3 separate regions of the Homo sapiens genome follow, and all the other regions are linked to region 3. Evidence: fine-mapped expression QTL. A gene starts in region 3. Each other region holds a variant in brackets. All regions are shown on one strand. Distances are from middle to middle. Region 1 has its middle 33 kb from the start of C5orf22. Region 2 overlaps DROSHA (drosha ribonuclease III). Region 3 holds the start of C5orf22 (chromosome 5 open reading frame 22).

What was found.
Region 1: its variant is fine-mapped to the expression of C5orf22 in tibial nerve (GTEx, PIP 0.93).
Region 2: its variant is fine-mapped to the expression of C5orf22 in adrenal gland (GTEx, PIP above 0.99). The same link has a PIP of 0.9 or more in cerebellar hemisphere.

What each region holds. Positions count from the first base shown.
Region 1 is chr5:31,560,303-31,570,879 of GRCh38, reverse strand. No RefSeq gene overlaps it. Among named protein-coding and RNA genes, the nearest start is that of C5orf22, 33 kb to the right of the region's middle. The variant G/A (reference allele first, on the strand shown) is at 5,463.
Region 2 is chr5:31,479,362-31,489,938 of GRCh38, reverse strand. DROSHA (drosha ribonuclease III) reads left to right here. Exons shown (of 36, transcript NM_001382508.1): 14 at 3,377-3,448; 15 at 4,977-5,058; 16 at 6,311-6,385. Among named protein-coding and RNA genes, the nearest start is that of DROSHA, 47 kb to the left of the region's middle. The variant T/CACAT (reference allele first, on the strand shown) is at 5,434.
Region 3 is chr5:31,527,333-31,537,909 of GRCh38, reverse strand. It overlaps C5orf22 (chromosome 5 open reading frame 22), which reads right to left and starts at 5,609. Exons shown (of 9, transcript NM_018356.3): 1 at 5,437-5,609; 2 at 3,493-3,638; 3 at 2,017-2,166. The coding sequence starts at 5,517. It overlaps DROSHA (drosha ribonuclease III), which reads left to right and starts at 5,817. Exons shown (of 36, transcript NM_001382508.1): 1 at 5,817-5,920; 2 at 6,385-6,460; 3 at 6,986-7,112; 4 at 8,805-8,870. The coding sequence starts at 8,851. RefSeq lists enhancers at 5,388-5,437, 5,488-5,537, 5,568-5,737.

The sequences.
Region 1 (10,577 bases), 33 kb before region 3:
TAAATGAAAATAGCTACATACAGTTAGTGGCTATCACCCTGAACAGTGAATATCCTTTAAAATAAAAAATATATATATACATGTATATAAGATGGGTGCCGTGGCTCATGCCTGTAACCCCAGCACTTTCAGAGACTGAGGTGGGCAGATGCTTGAACCCGAGATTTCAAGACCAGCCTGGCAACATGGTGAAACCCCATCTCTACAAAATACAGAAATAAAAAAGTAGCCAGGGATGGGGGCCTGCCCCTGCAGTCCCAGCAATCTGGGAGGCTGAGGTGGGAGGATCACCTGAGCCCAGAGAGGTTGAGGCTGTAGGTCGTGCCACTGCTCTCCAGCCTGGGTGACAGAGTAAGACCCTATCTCAAAAAATAAAATAAAGTTAAATAAAATAAAATAATATGTGTGTGTGTCTGTGTGTGTGTGTGTATGTATGTGTGTGTGTGTGTGTGTATATATATATGTGTGTGTATATATATATATATATATATATATATATATATATATATATATAAAATTATGTTCAGGGGCAAAGGGAACTTTATTTCCACCCTCTGAAGGTTTGATAATTTTAGTCTCTGGAATAAATTGGACAGTAGACAGATCAACAGGAGAAAAGGCGTACAGATTGATTATGTGCATATGCATGGGAGTCCCACAAACTATGAGACTCAAAGAAGGACCAGATGGCTGAAGCTTAAATAGCATTTTGGGCTACAGAAAGAAATAGTAGTTTGGGGTTTCCAGGGGCGGGGAGGTGGCATCAAATTATGGAAGGTTAAGGTTGAAAATGTCTGGCAGAGGTTTTCTTGTAATGCAGATAGTCTTCCAGGTAGCAGTCTTCGAAAGAATACTTTAGGCCTGTGTTTAGGCTCCTTTCCTGTGAGTTAATCTTCCCTGTTCAATGAGATTATAGGGAGGGACTCACAATTGTATTCCTTCTAGAGCAACTTCAGAGAAAGCCATACTCTGGCGCTTCGGGAGGGAAGGAGGGGAGACAGACCTTGATTTTCCTTTAGTGAAAAGCACTCAGCATGCCGAAGCACCATACTTTGGGGCATCAGTTTCTGAGCCCCAACACTTGTGTATGTAAGTACCTGTACAAACATATAATATAGTTTTTGAGGTCTTTATATTTTCATAAATGCAATGCTATTGAACACATTCTAAACTTTGCTATATTATGTATTGGTAAATGTTCAGGTTATTGTCCACTTTTTTTCAACTACAAACTATACAGAAAAAAATCTTTGTGCATGCCACCTCAAATACATATTTGTGTATTTCCATAGGATAGATACTGAGAAATGGAATCACTGGGTCACTGAGAATAGTTACTATTTTGAGTTACTGCCAAGTTGCTTTTCAGAGAAGCTGAAGTAATTTATTCCAGTTTTAGTAGGAAAGTACCATTTCTCCACATTCTTGATTAGTATTACCAACATTTTTTAATGCTTTGCCAGTTATATGGTGAGAAGTTACATCTTACTTTAATTTACATGTCTGTACATGACTAGGGAGAATAAAATTTATTTCTTTGTTTACTGATCATTTATATTTTCTCTTCTGTGACTTGACAGTTCACCTTGTCTGTTCATTTTTCTGCTGAGTTGTCTTATTCTTATATATATCCAAATTAAAATTTTTTGTTATATGTTATATTTATTTCTAGTTTGCACTTTTTTTAATACTTATATTTTAAGTTTGCTTATGCCTTTAGGTTTTTACAGAAGGTTTAAATTTAGACATGGTTATGCAAATCTCTTCCCTTGCAACTTTCCTTAATTCAGGCTTTTCTGCCCCAGAGTCATAAACACAGTCTCCTATGTTTTTATATAATACTTTTATAATCTTACTGAGATATATAATCCATATGCAATTGATTTTTATTAAGTGTGAGTTAGAGACCAACCTTTTTTTCTCTAAATGCATGGCCAATTCTCCCAATACTATTTCTTGAGTAGTCCAGCCTTTCACCACTGATAAATTTCAACCTTTATTAGATATTAAATTCCTATGTATGTGGAAACCTTTTTCTGAAGTCTTCATTGTGTTTCATTAATTTTGTCTGTTTATTCATGCATCAATATGACATTTTAAACAATATTAAACACATGCTTTGATATCTGCCAGGGCAAGTTTCTCCCATTTTTTCCTCCTAAAATTGTCTAAGCTATGCATACACGCATACACTTCTAGCCTTACTTATGAATTCTTGAATTAGCTAGCCAAATTGTATGCTAAAGACTGTTGGGTTATTTTGGGGATTACATTTTACATATCAACTTGCAGAGAGCTGGCTTTTTTTTTTTTTTTTTTTGGACAGTCTCTCTCTTTTGCTTAGGCTGGAGTACAGTGGCATGATCTCTGCTCACTGCAACTTCCACCACCCAGGTTCAAGTGATCCTCCCACCTCAAGCTCTCCAGTAGCTGGGACTACAAGCATGCACCACCACACCCAGCTAATTTTTTTTTTTTTTTTGAGATGGAGTTTCACTCTTGTTGCCCAGGCTGGAGTGCAATGGCATGATCTTGGCTCACTGCAACCTCTGCCACCCAGTTTCAAATGATTCTCTTGCCTCAGCCTCCTGAGTAGCTGGGATTACAGGTGTGTGCCACCATGCCGAGCTAATTTTGTATTTTTATTAGAGATGGGGTTTCACCATGTTGGCCAGGCTGGTCTTGAATTCCTGACCTCAAAGTGATCCACCTGCCTCGGCCTCCCAAAATGCTGGGATCACAGGCGTGAGCCACCACACCCGGCCTAATTTTTGTATTTTTTGTAGAGAAAGGGTCTCACCATGTTACCCAAGCTGGTCTCAAACTCCTGGGCGCAAGTGATCCTTCTGCCTTGGCCTCCCAAAGTGCTGGGATTATAGGCATGAGCCCCTGCACCCAGCTTGGCATGTTAAAATACTGAAATTTATCGTCTATAACCAATAATGTTCTTAATTTTGGATTTCTTCTACATCTCATAAAGTTTACATTTTTCCTTGTAAAGATCTTCTATATTTATTATTTAGGTTCTGTTGTGAATTCTTTTCCATTACATTTTCCATCTATTGCTATTTGTATTAGTCTGTTTTCACACTGCCATGGAGAAATACCTGAGACTGGGTATTTTATAAAAGAAAGAGGTTTAATTGACTCACGGTCTCACATTGTTGGGGAGGCCTTGGGAAACTTACAATCATGGCAGAAAGCAAAGGAGAAGCAGGCACCTTCTTTACAGGATGACAGGACAGAGTGAGTGCTGAGCAAAGGGCACTCTTAAGCCCCTTACCATCAGATCTCATGAGAACTCACTATCATAAGAACAGCATGAGGATAACCACCCCCATGATTCAATTACCTCCTATGACAACTACCTGGGTCCCTCCTATGACACACGGGGATTATGGGAACTACAATTCGAGATGCGATTTGGGTGGGGACACAGCCAAACCATATCACTGGTGTATCACAAAACTACTAATTTATGAATGTCCATCTGCTATCTAAGCCACCTTGTTGAACTTTGTTGTTATTTGTAAGTTTTCATCATATTAGTTTCATAATCTATCATGTGGTAGATTAATCATACCCTGGAGCCTCCCCCTCTTATCTCAAATCCCTAGGAATGACAGAAAAGTTATAAGAAAAATAAAATACATCCTTGCCTCCTAGAACACACAAAAAAGAAAAAAAAAGAAAAAGAAAATACATAGTGGCATCCTGTATATACTATTAATCATTTTATATTTTCTCTTCCTCCTGGTGGAATTTTCAATATCAGTACACAGAGAGGAGCCCCCTTCTGTGGTGGTAAGGGTACCACCATATGGATGTCTGATAACTTAACCAGTCCCTGTTGAAAGACCTTCCTCCCCAGTCTTTTACTGTCACAATGAAAATCCTTGTATAAAAGTCTTGCAATTGCCTGATGGGTTCTTCCTGCCTGCTGCACAGACAAATGCAATTCACTGAGACTGTGGTACTGCAGTAAAGAAAGTTTAATGCAAGGCCAATGATATGGTTTGCCTGTGTCTCCACCCAAATCTCATCTTGAATTGTAGTTCCCATAATCCCCACATATCATGGGAGGGACCCAGTGGGAGGTATTGAAACATGGAGGTGATTACCCTCATGCTGTTCTCATGATAGTGAGTGAGTTCTCATGAAATCTGATGGTTTTATAAGGGGCTTTTCCCCTTTTGCTCAGCACTTCTCCATCCTGCTGCCCTGTGAAGAAGGTGCCTTCTCCTCTATCGCCTTCCACCATGGTTGTAAGTTTCCTGAGGCCTTCCCAGCCATGCGGAACTGTGAGCCAATTAAACTTCTTTTCTTTATAAATTACGCAGTCTCAAGTATTTCTTCATAGCAGTGTGAGAATGGACTAATACAGAAGAGAGTAGGGTGCTGCTATAAAGATACTCAAAAATGGGGAAGTGAATTTGGAACTGGGTAACAGGCAGAGGTTGGAACAGTTTGGAGGGCTCAGAAGACAGGAAAATGTGGGTAAGTTTGGAACTTCCTAGACTTGTTGAATGGTTTTGACCAAAATGTTGATAGTGATGTGGACAATGAAGTCCAGGCTGAGGTGGTCTCAGATAGAGATGATGAACTTATTGGGAACTGCAGCAAAGGTGACTCTTGCTATGCTTTGGCAAAGAGACTGGTGGCATTTTGCCCCTACCCTAGAGATCTGTGGAACTTTGAACTTGAGAGAGATAATTTAGGGTATCTGATAGAAGAAATTTCTAAGCAGCAAAACATTCAAGAGGAAACAGAGCATAAAAGTTTGGAAAGTTTGCAGCCTGAAGATGCGATAGAGAAGAAAAACACATTTTCTGGGGAGAAATTCAAGCAGGCTGCAGAAATTTGCATAAGTAATGAGGAGCTGAATGTTAATAGCAAAGACAATGCAGGAAATGTCTCCAGGGCAGGTCAGAGATCTTTGTGGCAGCCCTCTCATCACAGGCCCAGCGGCCTAGGAGGGAAAAATTGTGTTGTAGGCCTGGGCCAGGGCCCCCCTGCTCTGTGTAGCCTCAGGACATGGTGCCCTGCATCCCAGCTGCTTTAGCTCCAGCTGTGGCTAAAAGGGGCCAATGTACAGCTCATGCCATTGCTTTGGAGGGTGCAAGCCCCAAGCCTTGGTGGCTTACATGTGGTGTTGGGCCTGCGGGTGCACAGAAGTCAAAAATTGAGGTTTAGGAACCTCTGCCTAGATTTCAGAGGATGTATGGAAATGCCTGGATATCCAGGCAGAAGTTTGCTGCAGGGATGGAGCCTCCATGGAGAACCTCTGCTAGGGCAGTGCAGAAAGGAAATGTGGGGTTGGCTCCCCAACACAGAGTCCCCACTGGAGCACTGCCTACTGGAGCTGAGAGAAGAGGGCCACTGTCTTCCAGACCCCAGAGTGGTAGATCCACCAACAGCTTGTACTGAGCACCTGGAAAAGCCACAGATAATCAATGCCAGCC[G/A]ATGAAAGCAGCCAGGAGGGGAGCTGTACTCTGCAAAGCCACAGGGACAGAGCTGCCCAAGGCCATGGGAGCCCACCTCTTGCATCAGCATGACCTGGATAGGAGACATGGAGTCAAAGGAGATTTTTTCAGAGCTTTAATTACTGCCTCGTTGGATTTCAGACTTGCATGGGGCCTGTAGCCCCTTTGTTTTGGACAATTTATCCCATTTGGAATGGGTATATTTACCCAATGCCTGTACCCCCATTTTATCTAGGAAGTAATTAACTTGTTTTCAATTTTACAGGCTCAAAGGTGGAAGGGACTTGCCTTGTCTTGGGTGAGACTTTGAACTTGGATTTTTGGGTTAATGCTGGAATGAGCTAAGACTTTGGGGGACTGTTGGAAAGGCATAATTGTGTGTGTGTGTGTGTGTGTGTGTATGTGTGTGTGTGTGTGTTTGAGACAGAGTTTCCCTCTGTCACCCGGGCTGGAGTGCAGTGGTGCAGTCTTGGCTCACTGCAAACTCCACCTCTTGGGTTCAAGCAATTCTCCTGCCTCAGCCTCCTGAGTAGCTGGGATTACAGGCATGTGCCACCACACCCAGCTGATTTTTGTATTTTTAGTAGAAATGGGGTTTCACCATTTAGCCAGGCTGGTCTTGAACTCCTGACCTCAGGTGATCCACCTGCCTTGGCCTCCCAAAATGCTGGGATTACAGATATGAGCCACCGTGCCCGGCTGCATAATTGTGTTTTGAAATGTGAGGAGATGAGATTTAGGAGGGGCCAGGGGCAGAATGACATAGCTTGGCTGTGTCCCCACCCAAATCTCATCTTGAATTGTAGTTCCCATCATCCCCACGTGTTGTGGGAGGGACCCAGTGGGAGGTAATTGAATCATGGGGGCTGTTACCCCCATGCTGTTCTTGTGATAGTGAGTGAGTTCTCACAAGACCTGATGGTTTTATAAGGGGCTTCCGCCCCTTTTCTTGGTACTTCTTCCTGCCGCCCTTTGAAAAAGGTGCCTTTCTTCCCCTTTGTCTTCCACTATGATTGTAAGTTTACTGAGGCCTTCCCAGTCATGCAGAACTGTGAGTCAATTAAACCTCTTTTCTTTATAAACTACCCAGTCTTGGGTATTTCTTCATAGCAATGTGAGACCAGACTAATGCAGCTAAGCAGAAGAACTGGAGTTATCACTCAAATCGGTGTCCTCAAAGGCTTGAAGATTAGGGTTTTTGAGAGATACTTTGATGGGCAGGGAACTAGGGAATGGATGCTACTGATTGGTTGGGGATGCAATCATAGGGGTGTGGAAAATGGTCCTTTTGCACTGAGCCTTCTTCTGGGTGTGGGGCCACAGGACTGGTTGAGTCATAGGTCACGAGTCTGGATGGGGTCAGTTGCCAGAATGCAAAAGTCTGAAAAGCATCTCAAAAGACCAGTCTTGGGGCCGGGTGCAGTGGCTCATGCCTGTAATCTTAGCACTTTGGGAGGCTGAGGCAGGTGGATCACCTGAGGTCAGGAGTTCGAGACCAGCCTGGCCAATATGATGAAACTCCATTTCTACTAAAAATATAAAAATTAGTTGGGTGTGGTAGCAGGTACCTGTAATCCCAGCTACTTGGGAGGCTAAGGCAGGAGAATTGCTTGAACCTAGGAGGTGGAGGTTGCAGTGAGCTGAGATTGTGCTACTGTACTTCAGCCTAGGCGACAGAGCTCGCTCCATCTCAAAAAAAAAAAAAAAAAAAAGCCAGTCTTGGGTTCTACAATAGTGTTGTTATCTATAGGAGCAATTGAGGAAGTCACAAACCTTGTGACCTCTGGCCACACGACTCCTGAGCAGTAGGGGATTATAAAAACTATGCCCACATTTTAGCAGAATTCTGTCCCCTCCCATAATGCTAATTTCGTGGCCTTTCATTAGTTTTTGGTCCCTGAGCAAGGAGGAGGTTAGTTGTAGGGAGGGACTATTATCATCCTTGCTTCCAAGTTAAGCTGTAAACTAAATTCCTCTCATGGTTAGCTTGGCCTACACTCAGGAATGAGCAAAAACAGCCTGTGAGGCTAGAAGCAAGACGGAGCCAGGCATGTCACGTTTCTCTCATTGTCAGAATCTTTGCAAAGGTGGTGTCAGTCTTTGCACAAGTATCTGCAGGATAAATTCCTAGAAGTGAAATTCCTAAAATCTGAATTTAAAAGTGTATGCAGTATACTTCAATGTTAATAGCTACCACCAAAGTGCCCTCTGGAGGCTGTACCAATATGTATTTTTAACAATAATATATCAGCATGCTTGTTTTCCCACACCTTCAGGAACACACTCGGTTTAAAACTGCCAGAAAGGAATACAGAAATGGCCTCTCAATTCTTGCTATAGCAGATGCTGCAGATGTCCCATCCAGTATTTCCATCTCCCTTCCAAGTTTACCTGCAGAGGATGGTTACTGCCCATCCTGACAGCATCCAATATGTGTCTGTATCTTTCTGCTTCTTTTCCTGAGTCATTTTGAGGTGTCACAGGAACTTGCTTAGCCCATCCAAGGGTGGGCTTCCCAGGGTGGCTGGGAATTAACAGCCTATCAGCTTCTCAGAGACAACCCTCAACCAAAGAGGAAAGAGAACCAACGGATAAATGTGCAAAATTCCCATGTCTCAGCAGGCAATTCTGAAGCATGTTCCTGCCAATTCTTCTGGGGATCCTAGTGAAATTGAGCTCTTGTTGGCTAAAGCAGTAATCTTGTTAGTACATCCTTTAATCACTTTGCTACCTTCCTTATCTCATTTCCCCACTCCTTCACTTCTTGCTATCACCTCTCAAATAAACTACATTCACCCAGATCCTTGCCTTAATGTCTGCTTTTGGGGAAACCTAAACTAAGACGGATGGTACTAGAGCTGGTCCTATAAAGGAGACCCTCAGAATGGGATATGAGAATTTGCTCATGCCCCGGTCAGGAGCAACAAGAACCTCACTGCTGGTCTAAGTGGGGGAAGTGATAGCCCATGGCTTAGCATGTTTACTAAGAATTTCACCAATGATTGTTTAGGATGAGGTACAGGCAGAAGGGGAAGCACTCGGCTAGGGAAGGATTGTGGAGGTGGCTGACTTTTGTAAACTTTTCTGGAGTCCTTGAAGAGAATAGCACAGAGAACAGCAGGTAAGCCAATTATCAACTCAGGGCATGCTATGAAAGCCAAAGGCTTTCATGGCCAACTTTAATTAGATCCTCATCTCTTGTTGCAGGAGTGCAGAGTATGATGCATATTAGACTCAGAATATAATCATAAAAATGTCAGCACTGCAACGGATGCCAAATTCACAGCCAGGGCAGATGTCCTATGTTAACTTCAGGGCCCAGAAAGGGAAGCAGTAGGACTGTGAAACCTGGAATGGTCATGCTACACAATCTTGAATCCCATATTCATTTGAATCTTCAAAAAACAAAAGAAAAAAAAAGAAAAGAAAAAAACATGCTGGCTCTGGTGGTTAATGCCTGTAATCCCAGCATTTTAGGAGGCTAAGGTGGGAGGTTCAGTTGAGCCCAGGAGTTAGAGACCAGCTTGGGGAACACAGTGAGACCCCATCTCTACAAAAAAAAAAAAAAAAAAAAAAAATTAGCTGGGTGTGGTGGCACGCACCTGCGATCCCAGCTACTTGGGAGGCCGAGATGCAAGGATTGCTTGAGCCTGGGAGGTGGAGGCTGCAGTGAGCTGTGATGATGACACCACTCCAGCCTGGGTGACAGAGTGAAATCTTGTCTCAAACAAACAAAAAACCAAGCATGCTTATTTATTAAGAATCTTTCCTTTTCTCCTGTGATCTAGAAAGTTTCCTTCCTTCTTTTCTTTTTCACTTTATTAAAATTTGATTCAATTGTAATTAATTTGTTGTAAGGAGTAAATTGGGAATGCAACTTCCTAACTCATCTTTCCCCACTGATATAAAATGCCACCTGGATTGTATACCAAATTCCGTATGTACTTGGGTCTTGTGGGAGAGAAAGCTAGGTGTTCTCCAAACCTGCTCTTTCTTCCATCTGGGCATACAACCGGTTACGTTTCCCAGGTTTCCTGCAGTTAGGAACTGATAGGCCTGGCAGATAAAAGCCTCCCAAAAGATGCCCCATCCTCTTTGCCTTCTTGCTAGGTGGATTAGAGATATTCTCTAAGAAAACCTTGAAAACCACATGTTAAGGATGGGAAAGCCAAAGATGCAAAGAGCCTGAGTCCAGAATCCTTGTGAAGAGGAAAGTCTGCTGAGCAGAAACACATTCTGGACTTCATGAAAATGAGAAATAAACTTGCACTTTGTATGAGACATTAGTTACTTTTTATTAAATCAGATGTCCTTACTCTAATATAGGTCTATTTCTGGACCTTATTCTGTTTCATTCGTCAGTTTCTCTGCTCATATGCCCATACTATGCTGTTTTAATTTACATAGTTTCATAATGTATTTTAGTACTTAGTAGGAGTTAATAACTTCATTCGTTTTTCACAATTTTTTTGGGTTCTCCTTGCATGATCATTTTTCCGTATGAATGTTAGAATCAGCTTCACTGGTTAAAATAAAACCTCCTTTGGTATGTTTATGGAAATTATAAACATTAGAATTTGATATAAGAAGCAGTGACACCTTTATAATATTGAATCGTCTTATATAAGCACTATTATTCTCTTCATAGATGGTCATGTCTTCATTTTTATTCTTTAGTAATATTATAAAGTTTTATTTGTATAGGTGGTAATAATTTTTTATTTTGTTTACTAATAGTTTTTTTTGAAGTTATGGTATTATAAATAGGATCTTTTTTCTATAATATTTTATAACTGGCTGTTGCTTATACAGGAAGCCTACAAGGATGCTGTGTTACCTGTTTTAGCATGATGTCAAATAAAAATGAAATGACCAGTCGGACATCCAAGAAAAACGTCTAAAAGCAAAACAAATCTTAAGTTTAAAAATGTTTACACTGTATAGCAGAAAAACAGACTGCATTCAGAGAAGGCATGTTGTTCTAGGTTAATTCACAATGGTCAGAGTTGCCCTCCTTTTTGATTAGAATTCCAAAGAGCTGCTATTTTATAAACTGTCCATACTATTTAACGAGCAAGCACTGTTGAGCTGGGG
Region 2 (10,577 bases), 48 kb after region 3:
TCACCGCACTCCAGCCTGGGCGACAAGAGCGAAACTCCGCGTCAAAAAAAGAAAAAGAAAAAAAATGTAAGGTATATGTATGAGTTACACCGTATTTTGTCGTATTCTCAAAAGCACAGGAGAACCCCTGGATCATTTCCCTCCCACTTTAGTTGGCTTCCCATTTGCAGTGGACTCGCTGACTCCTGGATTTGGTCAATCAGTGTGTGGAAGTAGTAGAGTTAGAAGATGGAGGTTTGGAGAGTTTTTTAGTTTTTTGAGTTTTTTTGCTAGGGTGAGATAGGAGTATAAGTCAGTATAGGATGTTCTTTTAAGTATTCAAACATGATGGTAGTCATTTATATTATTTGATGGCATTTGTTGGGAGGTATTTTGGTGATCTTTGAAGTTACACAGTTTCTTGGTTGACCATTGTGTAGCAAAATAACAAGCTCTTCTTGACACTTAGAGAGAGATTACAGTTTGAATAGATGAGGAGATCCTGCCTTTCCAAATTTGTGTGTCTGAGAAGGGCTCTGGTGGTATGGATGGAAGCCCAAAAGAAAATAAAGTATATACAAAGAGAAGAGGTCAGAGAAGGAATTCCAAGAAGTGATTTTACTTAAAATGAAATGGAGAAAGGACTGTACGTGCATAAATCATCTAGCAGAGTGCTTTTTCCTATGATAGCAAGGAAGAAAGTTTGCACATTTGCTTTCTGCCTATCTCTTGAGAATTCCCAACAGCTCTGGTTGTTTTCTCTCCTGTTTACTCTCTGAGTAGTTCATTTCCACCCATGCATATTCTGATCCCCACCAGATCAATATTAATAGCTGTGACATGTACCTCTGTATTAATACTCCACTCTCACATTTTAGATTGCCTTTTGAAATGAACCTCCTCGATGTTTCCTCAGATACTTTACCCTCAACCTGTGTGAAACTAGACTCGTCATCTTCCCTGCATATTGAATTTGAGGTACTAAGGGGACACCCTCCTGAATTAAGTGACCTAGTTGGTCACTTACGCCAGAAACCCAGAAATGATCCTCAATTCTTTCTTCACTCTTCCTCCCACATCAGAATGGTCACTGTATATTTCAGTAATATCTCCTGTGTTTAAAATTTTTCTCTTCCTTTCCAGTCTTCCCTTCATTTGGCTCCTGGACTATTGCATTAGACTTCAGTCTGGTCTTCTTTGTTCCCTTACAAGCCATTCCCACACTGTTTCCACAGTGTCTCATCTGAAATGTAAATGATGATAATCTGTAACTTAAAGTACTTGAATGATTTCTCGTTGCCATATATCCATAAGCCCTGACCTTAACATGGTTTGTAAGGGCTACATAATAGAGTTCATATTTTCCTCTCTAGATCATCTGGCATCTCTCTCTCTCCACGCACTTCTATCTGAACTGTGAAATTACTACTTCTTTCCTCAGCTCCCTTTCCTCCATTTTTCTAGAAGCTAAACACCTGCTCTGCCTCAACTTTTTCTAGATGACCTGGAAAATTCCTCCCCATCTTTTTTTTTTTTTTTTTTTTTTGGTGATAGAGTTTTGCTCTTTTGCCCAGGCTGGAGTGAAGTGGCATGATCTTGGTTCACTGCAACCTCCAACTCCCGGGTTCAAGTGATTCTTCTGCCTCAGCCTCCCAAGTAGCTGGGATTATAGACGCCACCACGCCCAGCTAATTTTTGTATTTTTAGTAGAGACGGGGTTTCACCATGTTGGCCAGGCTGTTCTTGAACTCCTGAACTCAGTTGATCCACGCTGCTCAGCCTCCCAAAGTGCTAGGATTACAGGCATAAGCCACCGTGCCCGGCCCCTCCTCATCTTTGAAGACAACTCATATGTTACCTCCTCTTTGGTTCTTTTATACTTTATACTTTTTTTGTTGCTTGTTTGTTTTTTAATTGAACTTAGAAGTTACATTGCATTGTATTCTTTTTGTATTTACTTACATGCCTTTCTTCTTACACATCTTTACCTCTTAAGATAGGACCCGTAGCTTATTTTAGAGTACCTATGAACCTAATATAGTTGTTAGCAAAGAATAGGTATTTTAAAAATACATTGAATCATGCAAAATTTTGTAACTCTTAAATATTTTTAAATGATTATAAGAACAAAGTAGAACTTAAAAATGATAATGGCTATTATGAATTTCACTCAAATTAACCACTATTCTTTAGAATAAAAAGGAAAAGCCCCCAAGAACTAAACTTTGTATCTGAGAAAAGGATTTCCAGTAGATGGCATTATAAGACTATTTTTCTGTTTTTCTTACCATCCCTTTCACTGATAGAATTAAAATTTGTTTCTTTCTGATTGCTGTGGTTTATGAAAATGATTACATCTGTATAAAATCATCTTATGGACAGATTAAGCAGCCAGAAAAACTCAGTTAACGCGTCTCTGGGACTTCTGGGTCTGTTATTTTCCCCAGCTAGCCAGCCAATTCTCTGCAGTAATCTCCCTCCCTTTTTCATTCTTTAATTCATTCAAAAATATATTTACGGAAAACCTGTTATGTGTAGGCAGTAGGCAATTGTCTGATGATACATTGGTAAAGTAAGATAGATGTGGATTTATTTTATGCTGAGCCTTCCTTCATTTTCACATGTATCTTGAGTATTAGAACAGGTAATGAGAGGGGTATACTCTAGTGGCTAAGAGCTGGAGTCTAGAGAAAGACTTCGCAGTTCACCAAGCTACCTGTTATCTTAGGCATGGTACCTGATGACTCTTCTGCCTTAGCTTCCTGCACTGTTCAGTGGACATGGTAGCCAAACCCATGTTATAGGGATGTTGTGATGGTTACATGAATGAATATTGTGAAGCATTTGGGACACTGCCTGGCTCAAAAAATGTTAGCTATTATTATTTTTATTATCATTTGTTATTATTATATTTATTACCACAATTGCCTTTGCTTAAGAGCCAGATGGGCAGCATGAATTGGGTGTTTTCAGTGACCTATGAATCCATAATTGATGAGTTATCACCCTACTATCCCTGATCTGCCTAAGGAGCCAGAGATTCTAAAATATTTTAAAAACTTGAGAAACAGAAATGTTTATGGTTATGGTTTTATTAATTCTTTAGAGGTGATACTTGTGGTTTTAATGGGTTCTTGTCATGTTTGTGTTGCTGCTGCTAATACTGTTAATTAAGCACCACATTATGCAGGTTTCTTGGCGAGGCCAGGCCAGCTGGGTTCTTGTCATTAAAATCCAGCAGTTGTGGTCAAGCTTCATGTGCAGTGTTGTTAGCCGCTGAGATGAAGGTGAAGCCTTCTCATTTGGTTCATGGCCTTTTGGGTCAGGTAACAAACGTGTATAATATGAGCCTGCAGGGAGACGTTGGGGAACTGAACCTCACTTCTTTTTATTGCAGATTCCACTGTGTAAAGTAATTAGATTCAACATAGACTACACGATTCATTTCATTGAAGAGATGATGCCGGAGGTAAGGGAAAAGATTGTGTGTGGTTTGATGTAGTTTGCTCTTTTGCTTGTTCCATACTACTATTTTAAAGCATTGAACTTGGCCAGATCTGGCTTTTGCCAGGAATATCTCTAAAGTATCATATTCACTGTTGAAAGAGTCAGTGAAATGTAGCTCTAGTATCAAGGTTAAAATTCAGGCCAATTTTCAACTTGTTGACCTGTTTTTATACCCCTTTCTCCTTGTGTTACGTCTGCTGATATTAACTTTACATCTGTTTCTAGTTTCTTTTACGTAGGGGACAGATTTTGGTTACTGGCCATTATCAGAGGGGAAATTGGAATAGTGAAACAATCTGATAGCTGTTGTAATAATCTTATTCGTTATCTCCAATGACAAGATCAATGCTTGGTTCATTTTTCTTCCCATATATTTACATATTTTTCCTAATTGTTTTTCATTGCGAGTGCTCAACAGCAGATTTATCTCAATATATGCAAGAGATTTAAAATTCCAAAGGAAGATTAATGTGAATCTCAGAATGATTCATAGTCTGATCTTGAATTTAGTGGTGTCAACAAATCATACTAAGAAATAACAACTAGACAGCAAACAAGCTTGTGCACTTAACATTGTGTTGGAGTCAGGGTCAATTTCCGGAGCCCCTGGCTCTGCTTGCAAACCTTGTTTAATGGGACAGCTCTGTCATGGGCAGGGAGTGTGGAGGGGGAAATTGATCGGCATCACATGTGTGCCTAGTTGGCACCTGTTTCATTCTGAGCAAGTGTTGTTTATTGTACCTTCCTTTCAAAAAGAATTAAAGAAAAAGAACCACCCCTTCATTCTCCTGCTTTAGAAGGGTTTTTTTTTTTTTTTAACTTCCTTTTGGTTTTTAAGGTCATATGCCTTCATTTGCTATTGTAAAAGTTTATGACTTCTGGCGTGATCTCACGCAGGGTGATTTATGAACTCCGAGCAAAACAAGTAGGAGGAAGAATTATGAGATAAGTCTCACTTGCAAATATATCTGTTTAGCTTGTTTACAGGAGAAATTTTGGTGCAGAGTTGTATAATTTTCTTAGCCCTTTATTTGCATTCATTACTTTTTGAACTTTTTGGGTACACAGGACCTCTGTTTTTTGGTAACTCCATGACAATTATGCTGGATGTATGGGGCGGGGGTGGGGGACAAGCCTATCAGGTGCATATGTATAATCTGAATTAACAAAACATCCTCAGAAGATTCTGACACAGTTTATAATTGAATTAGAAAAATATATTAATATAAGTGAGACTTTACTTTTTGAATTTCTTATTTTATTTGTATACTGAGAAGGGCTAAGTTGACATTAAGGAATCCTAGTGGCATTATTGTCTATTTCATTTCCATCTGAAACTAGCGATCAGTGGCCAAACTCTTCAGGAAACTATATGGTCTTAGTATAGTTTTAACAGACACTTTTAAAGACACTTGACAAGAACAAGTTGAACCTTCAGTTAATGTATATTTTGCCAAACTACAGTAATTTAATTTTGGTTTATTTTTCAGAATTTTTGTGTGAAAGGGCTTGAACTCTTTTCACTGTTCCTATTCAGAGATATTTTGGAATTATATGACTGGAATCTTAAAGGTAAGTAATAGGATTTAAAGAAGAGAGTAGTGTTTATGGAAGAACATTATGGTATATGTGAAAACTCTTATAAAAGTTGTAGGGAGATAGTTGAAATTTCTCTTATTTTTTAAATACCCAGAGAAAAGTGTTATTCACAGGAATGCTTGTTATCATTTGACATGAATAAGTTTCTATGGATTTTACTTTATACAGTTTGACAGGGCTTATTATTAGCTGGTAGCGGCTTGAAGATGGTACCAGTTATTATGTGTAGCTACCTTGATATATGTGTACCTGGGAAATTACCATTAGTTAATATTTTAAATCTAGTAAACTTTGCTGTAATAAATCTTCTAAGATGCAAAACTTTGGTTAGTCATTAAAACACACACA[T/CACAT]GCACACACGCAGACACTTAGAGTGAACTAGATAGATTCAAAGACTTGATGCTTGGTTCTTGGATAGTAGCTTACTTTTTTGGAAGTATCCGTATTCTTTTTTTTTTTTTTTTTTTTTTTTTTTTGAGACGGAGTCTCGCTCTGTCGCCCAGGCCGGACTGCGGACTGCAGTGGCGCAATCTCGGCTCACTGCAAGCTCCGCTTCCCGGGTTCACGCCATTCTCCTGCCTCAGCCTCCCGAGTAGCTGGGACTACAGGCGCCCACCACTACGCCCGGCTAATTTTTTTTTGTATTTTTAGTAGAGACGGGATTTCTCTGTGTTAGCCAGGTTGGTCTCGATATCCTGACCTCGTGATCCGCCTGCCTCGGCCTCCCAAAGTGCTGGGATTACAGGCGTGAGCCACTGCGCCCAGCGGTTGGAAGTATCCGTATTCTAGCAAACAGTTACTTATTTATTGGTGAATGGCTTTTCAAACTGATAGCATTTCTCAACATTTTTTTTTTAGTGTAGTGATTAAAATGGGAAAGAATGAACACATAGTCACATTATATCATGCAGTAATTCAATTATAATAAGTCTTGATAGTTTTGAATTTTAAAAATAATTTTACTGTATGTATTTGCTACTTGGGGCTTTCATCCTCTTCTTGCCTTCCTGTAGTCTCCTCATTGCAGTCTTCCTTGGGTGCTTGTGGCAGTTACCAATGATTGATTTAGCCACTGAGGAGGAGTGGCAGGAGGTGGTGGTAATTTTTATGCCTCTACTTCTGGTGGTAGTTTTTGTGGTTATCATAAATCTTAGAAATTAAGTTGCAGTGCTTGTTTTTTAAGACTGAGTTTTCTTTTTTTTTTTTTTTTCTCATTTGTTTGCTTCAGGTCCTTTGTTTGAAGACAGCCCTCCCTGCTGCCCAAGATTTCATTTCATGCCACGTTTTGTAAGATTTCTTCCAGGTAAATCTTCTGGCTTGTCAGTGACCTGGTGAGATAGTGCATCTGAAAATAAGCTTGCCATTTTCCTTTCAGTCTTCAGGGACAACTTTCCCACCTTCGATACTGTTAATTATCTACTTCTCAGGTTAGGCACGGAAATGTAAAATTATACATGTGGATTTATATCCCTGCATAAATTATGGTAGTCCAAATTAGATGAACAATGGAAGAACAGATTTATAAATTTTAGAAATCTACTTGACAAAATATCATGCGGGTGTGTTAATGTGGAGAAATGATTGTGGCTTAAAAAATGCATATGGCTAATTGGAAAACAATAAAAAAATTTAAATGCAATATGATTATAACTGCTGAAAAAATTACTGTAATAATAGTTACATTAAGGTAGTAGGATTATAGTGATTTTTTCTTATCTTTTGACATGTGCTTGAATTCATTTTACAGTGAAAAAAAGGTATAAAATAATTTTTTCTCCCAATAAAATATAGGGAAATATATGACAGTTTTTTAAAGCAATATTTTAACTGTTTTCTAATTTTTTAAAAAGAATCCACCTGTAATATTTGGCATTATATTTAGTGTTTTTAAAAATGCTTGGAGTCAGTTTAGTGACATGTACCTATAGTCTCAGCTATTTGGGAGGCTGAGAAGGAAGGATCGCTTGAGCCCAGTGAGGGTTTGAGACCAGCTTGAGCAACATGGCAAGGCCCTATCTCTAAAAATTAAAAAAAAAAAAAAAGTATTTTTAATGAAATCTTTTGGTTGCCTTTTTGTTTGCAAATCTTTCTCCTTGAGGCTTCTGGCACCCTATTCCCACTCCTTCTTTATTTATTTCCTAGTCAATTACCTGCTTTATCAAATGCTGTGAAACCTGGCTTACAGTTTCCTCTCTCCACAAGGTTCTGTTACCAGCCTGGTGAACTTCACTTACCATTCTACCCTGAGCTATATAATTATTTGACTTTTTCTACTGTAAGGATTGTCACCACTCAGCCGCTTAATCTTAAGATAAAACCTTGGACCATGCCACCAACCTACATTAATTTCTCCCTAGAATTTGACTCCATTATCTCACTTTCTGGTGACATCCTTCAGTCTAGCCTCTCATGTCCCTATTGCCTTTGCATCTACTTGGATCTTCCCTCTTCTCCTTATGTATGGCTACTTTCCTTTGCCTTCCCCACCAGGTCCTGTGCTCTGATGTTTACCCTGTCAGTTCTAGCTGTCTTAGCTGCCTGTATGGCCATCATCTCCGAGTTAATGTCATCAATCCAACTGCTTGCCTTTTCTTCTATATATGGGCCACTCAGTAATACTGAAGAGTAAAACATAGCTGCTGCTATAAATCTGTGGTCTATAATCTTGGTTGGGGAGCTTTTCTTCGTGTAACCTTTCCACCCAATATCAGCAGTTAAAGAATTTCAGTGCTGTGTTTGTGCTGTCCTCCTTATGCCTCCTGTCTTCCCATGGGCAGAAGCCCCTGTCTCCCTTGGGCAGGAGCCCTTGTCTCCCTCATGCCTGAGAGCCCTGCAGTGAGCCTGTCGGAGTCTGGCTTCCTCCAGTGCCCTTGTCCATTCACAGCCAAGTTTTGCTTCAGTGCCAGACCCTCTCTAACTGTCCCTAGCCCACTGTAGCTGCCGATGCCAGAGGCAGCCTCCTACAGACCAAGTGCAGAGCATGTGCCTCAGTGTTAGTCTCTTCCCTGCTCTGGTGCCTGGGTGCTCCTTACTTTCCTCCTGTCTCTTTGACTCCTCTTGTGTGGCTTTAGTTTCTTGTCTACTCTGTCTGGTTTAGATTTTTCTCAAGATTTTTTCCTGATACTCTTTCCTCAGTCCAGGCAGTCAAAATGGCTTAGTTTATTTTAGGTTAGCATTACTCAGATTTTTAGTATTACTGTTCATGTTTATTTTGTTTAGAAATGCATTCAAAGGCTTTTCTCCTTTTTATATCTGGTTTTGTTTTATTGAGATGCCGTTTCTTCTCTTCTGGTGAATGAATCTTTTGATTTTAGAATGGAGCTTCAACAGTAAACTTATTAGAAAATGGTGTTAGAGTGAATTTGCTGAAAAGCCTTTTCCTTTCTATATCTACTTTCCTGTAGGCGTTTTATGACCAAACAGATGTCTGAGAGAAAGTGGGCAGTTTTAAAATCACCTTAAAGAAAAATCTGCTGTTGGATATTTACTTTGTGAGATTTCAACTCTCACGTAACTATGTGGGGATAACATTTAGGTTGTCATAAAGAAAAAGGTCTATTGATTTGTTTTTAAACAGGGTTTACCTTTTCATTAGACTCCCCTTTGAAAATATACATACTAAGAAGACCCCGAAGGATACAGAAAAATACCTGATGTATAAAATGCATTTTGGTATTAGATAGGAAATTACGGTTGATTTGTTATTCATAATGTGACTTTGTTAAAGATCTTTTAGAAAATGGTGAATTAAAAAAAAACATTTTGATATATATTTTCATTTTTTTCTGTGCAGAAGGGTTTTTTTTACGTAGTTGTCATCTACTAGTATATGATTTGCATCTATTTTTTAATAATTCATTGAGCAGATGGATATTTTTAAAGATTGTGATATATAGTGCCAAATTTCTTGTCAAAAGAATAACATCAGTTTGTGCTGCCATGAAAAATGCATTATTATTCATTTTTAGCATTTTGCCTTTCCCATCTTCCTTCTCTCCTTTCTTTCTTCCTTTTAAAAAATTTCAGTGGTGAGTTCCATGAGGCTGAAGAGTAAACATTTGTCTGTCTTGTTGTATCACTAGTGCTAACATACTTCATGGCACATAGCAGGGACGCAGTAAATGCTTGTTTACTGATTTTATTTAATTGGTCATAATAATGCCTTATCTAAGTATTCATGTTTTTGGTTACTAGTGAGTGTGCTTTTCAAATAGTCTTTGGTATTATCTCTCATTTTTATAAAGTAAACTTTTGGTTGAACTATAACATAAATACTGAAAAGTGCATGGATCATGAATATAGGACCTTAGTGAGTTTTTACAAAGTGAATATGACCATCCACCCAGCACCCAGATCAAGATTAGTAGCTTCCAAGAACCCCCTTCGGACCCCTTTCCAGTCGCTGCTGAGACCCTCAAGGGTAACCGCTATTCTGACTTGAAACACCATGTATTAGTTTTACCTGTTTTTGAACTATAAAAACTAGAATTTTATATTCTGTTTTGCTTCTGTCTTTTGTTTAATGTATTTCAGAATCATATCCTGTTGCACTTAACTGTAGTTGGCTCATTCTCACTACTATATAGTATTATATGGGATGACTAAATTAAAATAAACCTATCTATGATTAATGGACATTTGAGTATTTTCAGTATATATATATATATATATATATATACTGACATTGCCAATAGAAAAACGGGCAAAAGACTTGAATGAGCACTTTAAAAAAAACACTATCTAGGTACCTAATAAATATATGAAATAGTGCTCCATTTTATTAGTCATTAGGAGAATGCAAATTAAAATCACAATGTGATACTTCTGAACACACATCAGAATGGCTAAATTGACAAAGAAAAAATAAATGCCAAGTGGTGAGAATGTGAAATAACTTGAATTTTCATACACTGTTAATGAGAAGGTAAAACAGTACAGTCACTTTGGAGAACTGAAAGTGTCTACAAAGCTTAATATACACACAGCCAGAATTCCACCTGGTATGGTATATATGTAACAGAAAAATATGTATATATGCTCACTAAACAACACGTACATGTCTTTGGTGAACGTACATATGCTATTCAAATATACAGATACAGATATATAGTGAATATATGTTATATATAGTGAATATAGAACATGAATATAAATGTCATGAATATATATATATCTAATACCTTCTCTGTAGATTGCTTTTTGATCTTCTTGATGATTTTTGTTGAATAGAAATTCTTAATTTTTATGTAGTCCAATTTATAGATATATATTCCTTTATGATTAGAGCTTTTTGTATCATATTTATGAAATTTTCGCCTACCCTAAAGTCAAGATACTCACTTATATTTTCTTCACTTTCAGAGCTGTAATCAGTCTTGAATTTGTTTTCACAATTCGTATGAGATATGGGTCAAAACTCAGTATTTTCAACGTGGGTATCCAATTGACCCAGCACCATTTATTGAAAAGAACAATTTCTTTCTTTAGAAAATTGA
Region 3 (10,577 bases):
GACAGGGGCAATATTCTAGAGACGGTGGTGCAAAAAGGTAGAAGGAACTAGGGTTCCCCAAACTCTAGAGCTGCCACATAGGCCTGGACTGTGTACAGTGAATTCTAATATAAGAATAAACTCTCTTGTTTAAGCCAGTGTTCCTTTGTTCTCTCTCATACCAGCTGAATCTTTATCCAAAAAATCATTGAAGAGAAAAATTTCATCTGGAAATAATTTCTCTTAATAGAAACTCCCCCTGACATATTTTAGAGCTTTGTTAATTTCTATATAACCATAATATTCTCAGTATGAAAGGTGACTTGGTAAATACTTCAAACAGTGAAGCCAAATACTTCTTCTAGAGGCATGCCTTACCCACCTAAAATCATGGTTAATATTTATTTCCCACTTGACCTCTCCCAGCATACACAGCTATAAACTGTAAAAGCTATTTTCCAAAAATAGATTAATGACATAGTAAAACTAATGTCCAAGCTTATTAAAACTGTACAACCCTAAGATGAAGCTGTATCCCCCAACCTAAATTAATATTCTTTTTAATAACAGCAGTTCTCCCATGTTCCTATCATACAAACATGCAAGTATTTGTCAAACTGCACACCAACATGTATATGTGTCTCTTCCATACATTTTTACTTGCAGGATTAACCAAAGTCATGAATCAAAATCTTCCAAAATTGTTAATCACACGTGGAGTTTCAAATGTCTGTGTCAGATTGCTGAAAATTATTTGATTTTGTAGGTTAAATCAGGCCTACTCACTGAAGTACTCAATAAAAACCCTACTACTATTTCACATATACCAGTAGTATGTACAATATTTATATGCTGAGTCTTAATTATTTCTTTTGAATTATATCTGAAATAAATACAATTTTCATATATCACAACAAAGCTATTTGTGCAAACGACAAGATTATATACTACAAAAGTTAATTGTATCATTAAGAATAAATTAGAAATAAAGTATCATTTTCAATGAGGAAGACTATCTGATTTTCAACGTATTACCATTTCACTCCATTATCCTTAAGGTTCTAGAAAGTTATGGCTATACTGTTTAAAATATTTATCCCATCACAAGAGAATTTTAAAGTCAAGAACATATTGATATTTCTGAAAGTATTATAGTATCACAAGATACACAAAACATTGTTAAATAGCTTATACAATAAAAACAGTTGCATATTTATCTCAAGTCAGAGGATACTGTAATTTACTTTAGATTAAGTACTTATCTGAAACTAATTATATTATAAAGAAAATTAAAGCCCCAAATCTACTTATTCAGCAGTTGGATTTATAAAAAAATCAAAGTGAGATAATTTTGCCCTTTCACTGCTAATTACTGTTTTTTTGTTTGTTTGTTTTTTGTTTTGTTTTTGAGACAGAGTCTCACTCTGTTGCCCAGGCTGGAGTACAGTGGCACGATCTCAGCTCACTGCAAGCTCTGTCTCCTGGGTTCACGCCATTCTCCTGCCTCAGCCTCCTGAGTAGCTGGGACTACAGGCGCCTGCCACCACGCCCGGCTAATTTGTTTTTGTATTTTTAGTAGAGACGGTGTTTCACCATGTTAGCCAGGATGATCTCGATCTCTTGACCTCGTCTTCTGCCCACCTCGGCCTCCCAAAGTGCTGGGATTACAGGCGTGAGCCACTGCGGCAAATTCAGCAGACAACAGTTATACTGACAGGAAACAGTAAAATGTACTACTGAATGTATAAATCTATAAGATACTTCAATGGCTTAAGGAGTTAATCACCAATGAAGCCCAAATTCCGGAGGATAATGATCACATTCAAAATCTAATTTGACCAGCAACTAAATATAAATGGTACATGAAGAATATCAAGAGACTTAAAAGTTTGTTCTTCGTGTTTTGAGAACTCTTTGGAGAAGTCGAGGCTTAATCTGACCCTATTTGTGTGCAGAGACTTATGAAGTTATTATAGGAATCCAAAATAAGATAGAAACATTCAATCACTTCCATATTCACAAATATGAGGAAATTACCTGATTGTTGTGGTAGAAGTGTCTTTGCCTACTAAAAAGTGGTGTCTGCCCTCTCTGATCTGCTGAGCCCATGTGGGATGAAACCATATTACATGTGAAAAATGGCCAGCATAAACTGCAGGCATAATCCAATTTTCAATACTTAATTCTCTGGAAAAGAAACATAGAGACAACATTAAAACTTTTATTTTTATTTTTTCCCAAGTGTAATTTTATCCACAACATTTTAAGACCACAGGTCTCAAAGTGTGGTCCCTAGAGTGGTTCCTGAGACTTTTTCAGGGACATCACTATTACAAAACTATTTTCATGAAAATACTAAGGCATTATTTCCTGTTTTCATTTACTGACATTTGCAAAGATGGTGCAAAGGCACTGGTGGGTTGATGTTCCAACATTAATTAAGGCAGCAGCACCAAACTGTTAGTAGTTACTATATTCTTCATTACCAACCACTGCCAAAATAAATAAATAAATAAATATAAAAGTGTCATTCGAGAACATCTTGATTTTATTAAATTTCCATCCTGAGTATACATTTTTAAATATTATGTGTGGCAAAATGAGAAATGCACAGAAAGCTCTCCTGCTACATAGTTTGAAGCATAACAGTTGTCTCAAGGAAAAGCACTTGTGATTGAACTTTGAGGTGAACACCATTTATCTTGAAAGGAGTGGTCAAGAAACTATGGTTATTCACACTTGATACTGAATTGCTGAATTCTACATTTCAAATAAGCTTTAATAAACTACTACTTTTCAAGTTTTGGCGCACTATCAAAGAATATTCACAATTATCTAAAAAGGCTATCAAAATATTCTTTCCTTTTCCAATTACATGCCTGTGAAAGCCTGAATCTTCATCATATATTTCAACCAAAACAGCATATGGCAATGGACTAAATGCAGAAATAGACGTGAGAATCCAATGGTCTCTATAAAGGCAAATATTAAAAGGATTAAACATTGGCTAGGCTGTTTTTGTAAACAAAGTTTTTTTGGTTTGTTTCTTTTAAGAGATGGGGTCTGGTTATGTTGCCCAGTCTGGAGTGCAGCAGCTATCCACAGGCTTTGATCACAGCCTGGAACTGCTGGCCTCAAGTGATCTTCCCACCTTAGCTTCCTGAGTAGCTGGGACTACAGGCTCATCCACCATGCCCAGCTTGTAAATAAAGCTTTATTGGAACACAGCTACTGTCATTTGTTTACACAGTGCTTGTGATTGCTTTCACACTACAAAGGCAAAGATTAATAGTTGCAACAGAGACCATATAGCCAGCAAACCTAAAATATTTGCTAATCTGGCTCTTTAAGAAAGTTGTCAACACTTGTTCTAAATAAAATGAAAAAGACAAAAAGACAAACAAAAAACCCCCAAACCCATGAGTTTAGCAAAGTCTATTTCCTATAATTGCTTATTATCTACTGCAAATTGTACTTCAAACACAAAAGACCATAAATAAAATCACATATTACCCAAAGAGTGTTTCCTTATCAAACACGGTGTCTGCTGGCATATTCACAGGAATAAGGAGGTCTGGATGTGAGTCGAAATGTAAAAAACTTACATTACTGGCAGGAAGATGCTTTGAGCCTATGGCCCGGTATATAAAGGGTAGAACCTGTAAAAGACACAGGCACACAATAAGAATTAACACTGAAACCATGAGCACACACTCAACTGCAGACTGAAAAACAATGCTAAATAATGCACATAATTGAAAGCATACTATGTTGCTGTAAAGTGGAAAAACATAAAATTTGTTTACTGTAGATGGTGCAGATGATAATCTCAAGCATTACTTTGTCCTCAGAACTTCCAACCTGCATCTCCAGCGGCCTTCCTGCTGCCCCCTTGAACTCAACAGGTCATGTGGGGAAACAGACCAGGACTGGGGCTCAGGAACAAACTACCGCTTAATGCCTGTTCTAACATTAACTAGGTGTTCAAGGTACCCTAGGTCTCAAAGTATTCTTTTTTTTCCTTTAAAAAGGGATAGGGGCTTGTCAGTTGCCCAGCCTGGAAAGCAGTGGTGTGATCATGGCTCACTGCAGCCTTGGACTCCTGGGTTCACACGATCCTCCCACCTCAGTCTCCTGAGTAGCTGGGATTACAGGCACGCACCACTACGCCCAGCTAATTTTTTCACTTCTATTTTTGTAGAGATGGGATTTCGCTCTGCTGTCCAGGCTGGTTAGGGTCTTTTTGGTACACTTAGAATGGTGGGGTTGGGCTAGGTGGTCTATAAAGGCCATTTCTCCTCTTACATCTTCTCTAATTCTAGGTTTAATACCTAATTTGAAAGCACCGTCTAACCTAGGCTTTCTCATTCTCTCAAGGTCATAGACACTATATCCAGGTCCTGAGAAACCTATCTTCCTCTCCTATTAGCTGTCACCAACAGTAAATCCCTCTTCTTTTTTAACGTCCAGAGAACTGCCTCCCATCCCAAGCCTACTGATGCTACTTTAAAACATATTTATTAGATCCATGGGCCTCCTTTGTTGACTTGGAAAAGTCTAGATTAAGACACCAATTTGGCTACTGTAAATCAGCACGGCCATAAACATGGAAACCCCTTTTAGTGTTTATCTATGCAGGGCACCGTGTTAAATTTTTTTTTTTTTTTACGCAATATGGGCCGTGCGCAGTAGCTCACGCCTGCAATCCCAGCACTTTGGGAGGCCGGCGGGGGCCGATCACGTGAGGTCAGACTTTCAGACCATCCTGGCTAACGTGGCGAAGCCCCGTCTCTACTAAAAATACAAAAATTAGCTGGGTACGGTGATGCGTGCCTGTGATCCCAGCTACTCAGGAGGCTGAGACAGAAGAATCGCTCGAACCCAGGAGGCGGAGGTTGCAGTGAGCCGAGATCGCGCCACTGCACTCCAGTCTGGGTAACAGAGAGAGACTCCGTCTCAAAAAAGAAAAAAAAAAGATTTTTAAACACAGTATGCACACAATAATACTCCTAAGAGCCCTGTGAGTCCTACGATTACTGTCCCCATTTCAGATCAGAGCCCACGTTCCAAGCATAAAGCCTCCCATCTAAACAGCAGGGCTGTGGTGGCGATTCCAGGAGATACTTGGAAGCCAGAGTTAACTGCAGGTTAAGAACACAGGGCTCTGCAGCCAGACTGTCCGGTTTCGAATCCCGATGCCACCTTTTGTTTGGTTCTGGGATTTGGGGGCAAACCGAGGTAAATAAGTTGCCCCGACTCGTAGGAAGCGCCCATAAATGTCAGTTCTCATTCTTCCTAGTTAGCTGTTTTGGGGTCCTCTCCACAGCAACGGAATAGGGCAGTTTAACTCTGGTTAACTCTCTGGCCTCCGATGCTAAGGTTGCGCCCTCTGCTTGGCCCTCTGAGCGTCAGGGCTTCCGCTGATTCTGCCCCAGAGCCCTGTTGCCGTCCGCTCACCTCCTGATGATCCTCCACCACCCACACTGGGAGCTTGGGGTAACGCCGGAGACCAGCGCGCCCTCCCGCGGAGTCACTCATGTTTTTGCGCCCGTCAGTTTTGCAGTAAAGCGGTGGCAGCTGGAGAAGACCCGGGAAAGCCGGCGCCTCATCCCGGCCAGCTCTCTCCGGGCGGAAGCGCTCCCTCACCCGGTTGCGTTTTCGGATTGGAGGACGTAGGGGGAGGGGGCGCGGGCTCCAAAGGGTCTTTTGCTGACGATTGGTCTAGACGTCCATCGCTTTCGTTGACGCGCCAATCACCGCGCACAAGGCCCTGCGGTGGGCTGAAGAGTTTTCCCTCCCTTGGCCCAGCTTTCTCAGGTTTGCTTTTTAATTCCCTCGGTTTCCTGTTCCGGAGGCGCGGGCGGTGCCACTGTCTTGGTACCTGCGGTAGTAGCCTGGCTTTGCTCTGACGGCGATCTCGCGGCCCGAGAGCCTTTTATAGGTAAAAGGGGTACCTTGCAAGTGTTAGAAGAGAGTTTCCGAGTGTCAGGATTTAAACGGGGCTGGAGTCTCCGGGGCTGGGGTGAAAAGCGTCCGGGAATTGGGGTCGGGCAGCCCCACTTCAGATCTGCAGCTAAGGGCAAAAGAGCGACGCTAGGCCTGGATCCCGCAAATAAGTGGAAGTGAAAAAGGAGACCTTTCATTCATTTGTGGAGCACACACTATGGTCCAGGCCTGGGGCCGCCCGGCTCTCGGAGGGGAGTGAGATCCTGAGCTCAGCGCCTGCCTCGTGGGGCGTACCGTCTGGCGGGAGATGCAAACAGTAAATGTGCAGTTATGGATCAGGATGAAGGTGACTGCCCTGCAGATCCACCTGGGGAAAGAGGGAGTTCTCAATAAAAATGTAGTCACACTTTAAAATTCTTTTTACATGCACTGACGTTCTGGCCGTGTTAACTATTCAAGACAGCTCCTTCAGTGTCTCTGTTTCCAAACCGCAACCGAGAAGAGACAGACGGAGAAAAGAGAGTTACTTTTCCAGGTGCAGTGAATTCCTTGACTTTTGAATTAAAGTCTGCATCCACAACACAGCCGGACTATGCCTTCAATAGGTCAATTTCATGATTAGTATTTTTAGATTTTCTAACTACTGAAACATCCATGAGGATCTGGCAGTGAATGTTCAGCTCTTGTTACACACTGTACAAGAGTGTTCGTGACCCTGACTTTTGCCCACCTCTAGGTGCGGCACACACCTTTGTGTTCCCCTAAGCCCTGCACATACCTCTTTTTTGTGTGTTTATTGCATTATTTTGTATTTTTAAAACACTTACTTGTACGTGGGTTCTGAGTTCCTTGAATCCTACAGGCTGTGTGTCTTATTATCTCTGAGTCTACAGGGCCTGGGACAGTGCTTCCCATTTATGGGCTCATTAAATATTGCATGACTCAGTGAAAAGGCCTGCTTTCTGTTGCGGAGGTACATGGAAGGGAAATGTACAGTAGCAACATGGAAACATACTATTGGTGAGAGAGTAAACATTTATTGACCACCTACTGTGTGTAGGTTGCTTTTCCCGGGGATGTGAAGGATACAGAAATGACTGTGAATCAACCCATATCATCAAGGAGCTGATAATCTAGTGGAAGAGTTAGACGTGTGCATACTTCACTATGATATGAGGCAGTCTCTGGTAAGTGCTGTAAAAGGATTAAGTATAGACTAAGTCTAGAGGGAATGGGATTACCTAAGGGAATCAGGAAGGGCTTCATAGAGGAGGTGGCATTTAAGATTGATAGATGGATAGAAAATCACTGGGCAGATTCATACGTTGGGAGATTTTTTTTTTTTTTTTTTTTTGAGCTAGAGTTTCGCTCTTGTTGCCCAGGCTGGAGTGCAATGGCGCGATCTGAACTCACTGCAACCTCTGCCTAGGGTGGGAGATTTTAGAGAGGAGAACGGGAGCAAAGAACTAGCTGGTTCTTTGTACTCGAATGGTAATCTGTTGGGAAAACATGGGGTAGTAGGGTCTTTCTGGGGAAGGTACTGGAGAACAAGCCTGGGTCCAGAGTCAATAGAGCCTTAAATGCCAAGCACAGAGGTTGAACTTGATTCTGTTGGCAGTGAGTAGCCTATGGTGGCAGGAGCACCTGTCCGGGCCCCAGGTTTATCATGAGGGTACTGGACTGGATAATAGTAATAAGGAGTCAGGCGCAGTGACTCACGCCTGTAGTTCCAGCTATTTTGGAGGCTGAGGTGAGAGGATTGCTTGAGCCCAGGAGTAAGAGACAGCAGTGAGCTATGATTGCACCACTGCACTCCAGCTTAGGGACAGAGTAGACTTTGTGTCTTAAAAAAAAAATCAGATATTATTTGGTGCCTATTATTTATTAAGCACACTGACTGCTAGCATAATCTGAAATTATTTTCATGAGCCATTTGAAAGTCTACATAGTAAAGTTCTATTGATGAGACTTTTAGAAAGACTTTCAGAAAATGTTTCTATGTTACAGCTTTTTGTACTCAATATTTATGTGAGTTTTTAAAAAATGTTTTGCTGAAGTTCAAGTATTTGGAAAATCATTCATGTTTACAGTGTTTTTATGTGGGAGGAACTGAGAATGAAAATTAAGAATCATTAACTGGTGTGTTAACAAGATTCTGGTTATGTTTGAATTTGAATGCTGGTCTCACTGTGATTTTTGTGTTTGGTCTATGCCTACATGGTTTGTTTTTTTTTTTGTTTTTTTTTTTTTGTTTGTTTTTTTGAGACTGTCGCCCAGGCTGGAATGCAGTGGCGCCATCTCGGCTCACTGCAAGCTCTGCCTCCCAGGTTCATGTCATTCTCCTGCCTCAGCCTCCCGAGTAGCTGGGACTACAGGCGCCCACCACCACGCCCGGCTAAGTTTTTGTATTTTTAGTAGAGACAGGATTTCACTGTGTTAGCCAGGATGGTCTCCACCTCCTGCCCTCGTGATCCACCTGCCTCGACCTCCCAAAGTGCTGGGATTACAGGCGTGAACTACCATGCCCGGCCTATGCCTACCTGTTTTTACCATGAAGGAAACGAGAGTATGAAGGGGGAGAGGGGAAATGATATTTTTCCCAAGTCTTTTAACAAATTAGAGATGATCTATGCCTATAAGTCTTTTTAGCTGCTGATAGTTTTGAGTTGGCAAAACTAGTAATAATGACATTTTAAAATTTAAGGACATTAAAAATTTAGTTGGAAACTTTAACACAGTTCAACATGCTTTTAATTTTGTTTGTAGGCTAAGTGTATTGGAAACTACAAAATTAGTGTTATGGTAATTGCAGAAATATTTTGTAGCATTGGCAGTTTGGGAAACATGTTTATGTCTGTTTTATTCTTTCTGTTTTTTAGAGCTTATATTCTCTGTGGAAGATGTGACATATCCAGGCGGAACATCATGATGCAGGGAAACACATGGTGAGTGCCGTGATGGGAATGGCAATAGTTTGGGAGAACCGAGAGAGGAGCAGACATTGGTGCTGGGCTATAGAGGGTGGAAAGGATTTAGATACATGGGGAGAGGGGATAATGTGCTCATTCTTTCAACAGTGGGCACAATACAATAGAGGGCCATGCCCAGGGCTGGGAAGCCAGACCAGAACAGTTAATAGAAATCCCAGAGCGCTGCCCTGACAGCGCTTGCAGTTCCGAGGTGCAGGCAGACATTAAAGGTGGAATTAGGTCCTTAGAAGGTGGATTGTAATTATTGTAGGACCTGCTAAGAAGCAGCACAGAGTGTTGTGAGAGCAAGGAACCTAACAAAGCCCTAGGGTCAGTGACAGTGGTTGTAGAAAGGCCAGCAAGGATATTATTATAATAGCCATGTAAGAGGTGATGATGTGAAGTAGATGAATTCAGGAAATATTTATGAAGCAGAAACAATTGGATTTTTTGTTTATTTTTTATTAAGGGATAGTTGCCATATAAGTGACAGCAATTTTAAAGTAAATTTTTAGCTAAGGATGGGGGGTGAGGGAGGACAAGTCAGATGATTCCCTGTTACATGTCTTAAGGACTATTAATGGTGTCATTTATTGAGATAGGAAATACTAGGAAAAGAGCAAATGTTTGTCTTGGAGGGCAAGGTCATTAATTCCTTTTAGCATATGTTATGTTGAATTTGTTGGTCCAGGTCAGTGAGACACTCAAGGAGAGAGATGGGGTTGGTAATTGGCAGTGTGGGTCTGGAGCTCAGAAGTTGTGGGCTAAAGGTGTAACTTGGGAGTTTCTGACAGATTGATGTCAATTGAAGCAGTGCAGGTGAGTAGCATCACTTTGGAAGAGAGAGTGAGCAGAGTGCCTGGGCTAGACCCCTGAGGAATACCAGACGGTTAAAGGCCCCCTAGCAGAGAAGAAGCTGGTATGGGAGACTGCCAGGAGGAACAGCCAGAGAAGTAGGAAGGCCACAGTGAAGGCATCATGTCAGGAAGCCAAGAAACGCATCCATGGGGGTGGGGGCTGGGGAGGCAACTGGACTGATTGCTGCACAGAGATCAAGCAAGGTGATTGAAAATGACCTTTGGTTTTCAAGACAAGGTGGGCACTGATCATGTCACTTATTGGAGAGGTGGTGGAAGCTGAAGTCGGATTAGAGTGAGTTAGAAGTATATACACTTTTGTCTTAGCTTGGGCTGCCATGACTAAATGCTATAGACTGGGTAACTTAAACAGTAAACATTTATTTCTCACAGTTCTGGAGGCTGGCAGTCTGAGATCAGGGTACCAGCACAGCCAGGTTTCTGATGCATGCCCTCCTCCTGCCTTGCAGGTGGCTGCCTTCTTGTTGTAGTCTCACCTGGTAAGGGGTGGGTGGCAGGGATTTCTTTTCTCTTTCTCTCTTCATAAGGGTACTAATCCCATCATAATTACCTCTCAGAGTCCCCACTTCCATATAGCATCACATCAGCGTTATGATTTCATCAGCAGGAATTTTGGGATGGACACAAACATTCGGTCTGTAGCAACGTTTTCAGGTCATTTGACTGTAAAGGGGAGGACAAAGAAGGGGCAAAGTCAAGGGAGACCTGGAGGCCAAGGAAAGTACTTTATGTTGGAATAGACCTGAGCACTTTCAAATGCTGATGTGAAGGGTCTGGTATCAGGGAGAGGTGGAGGATTGCAGAG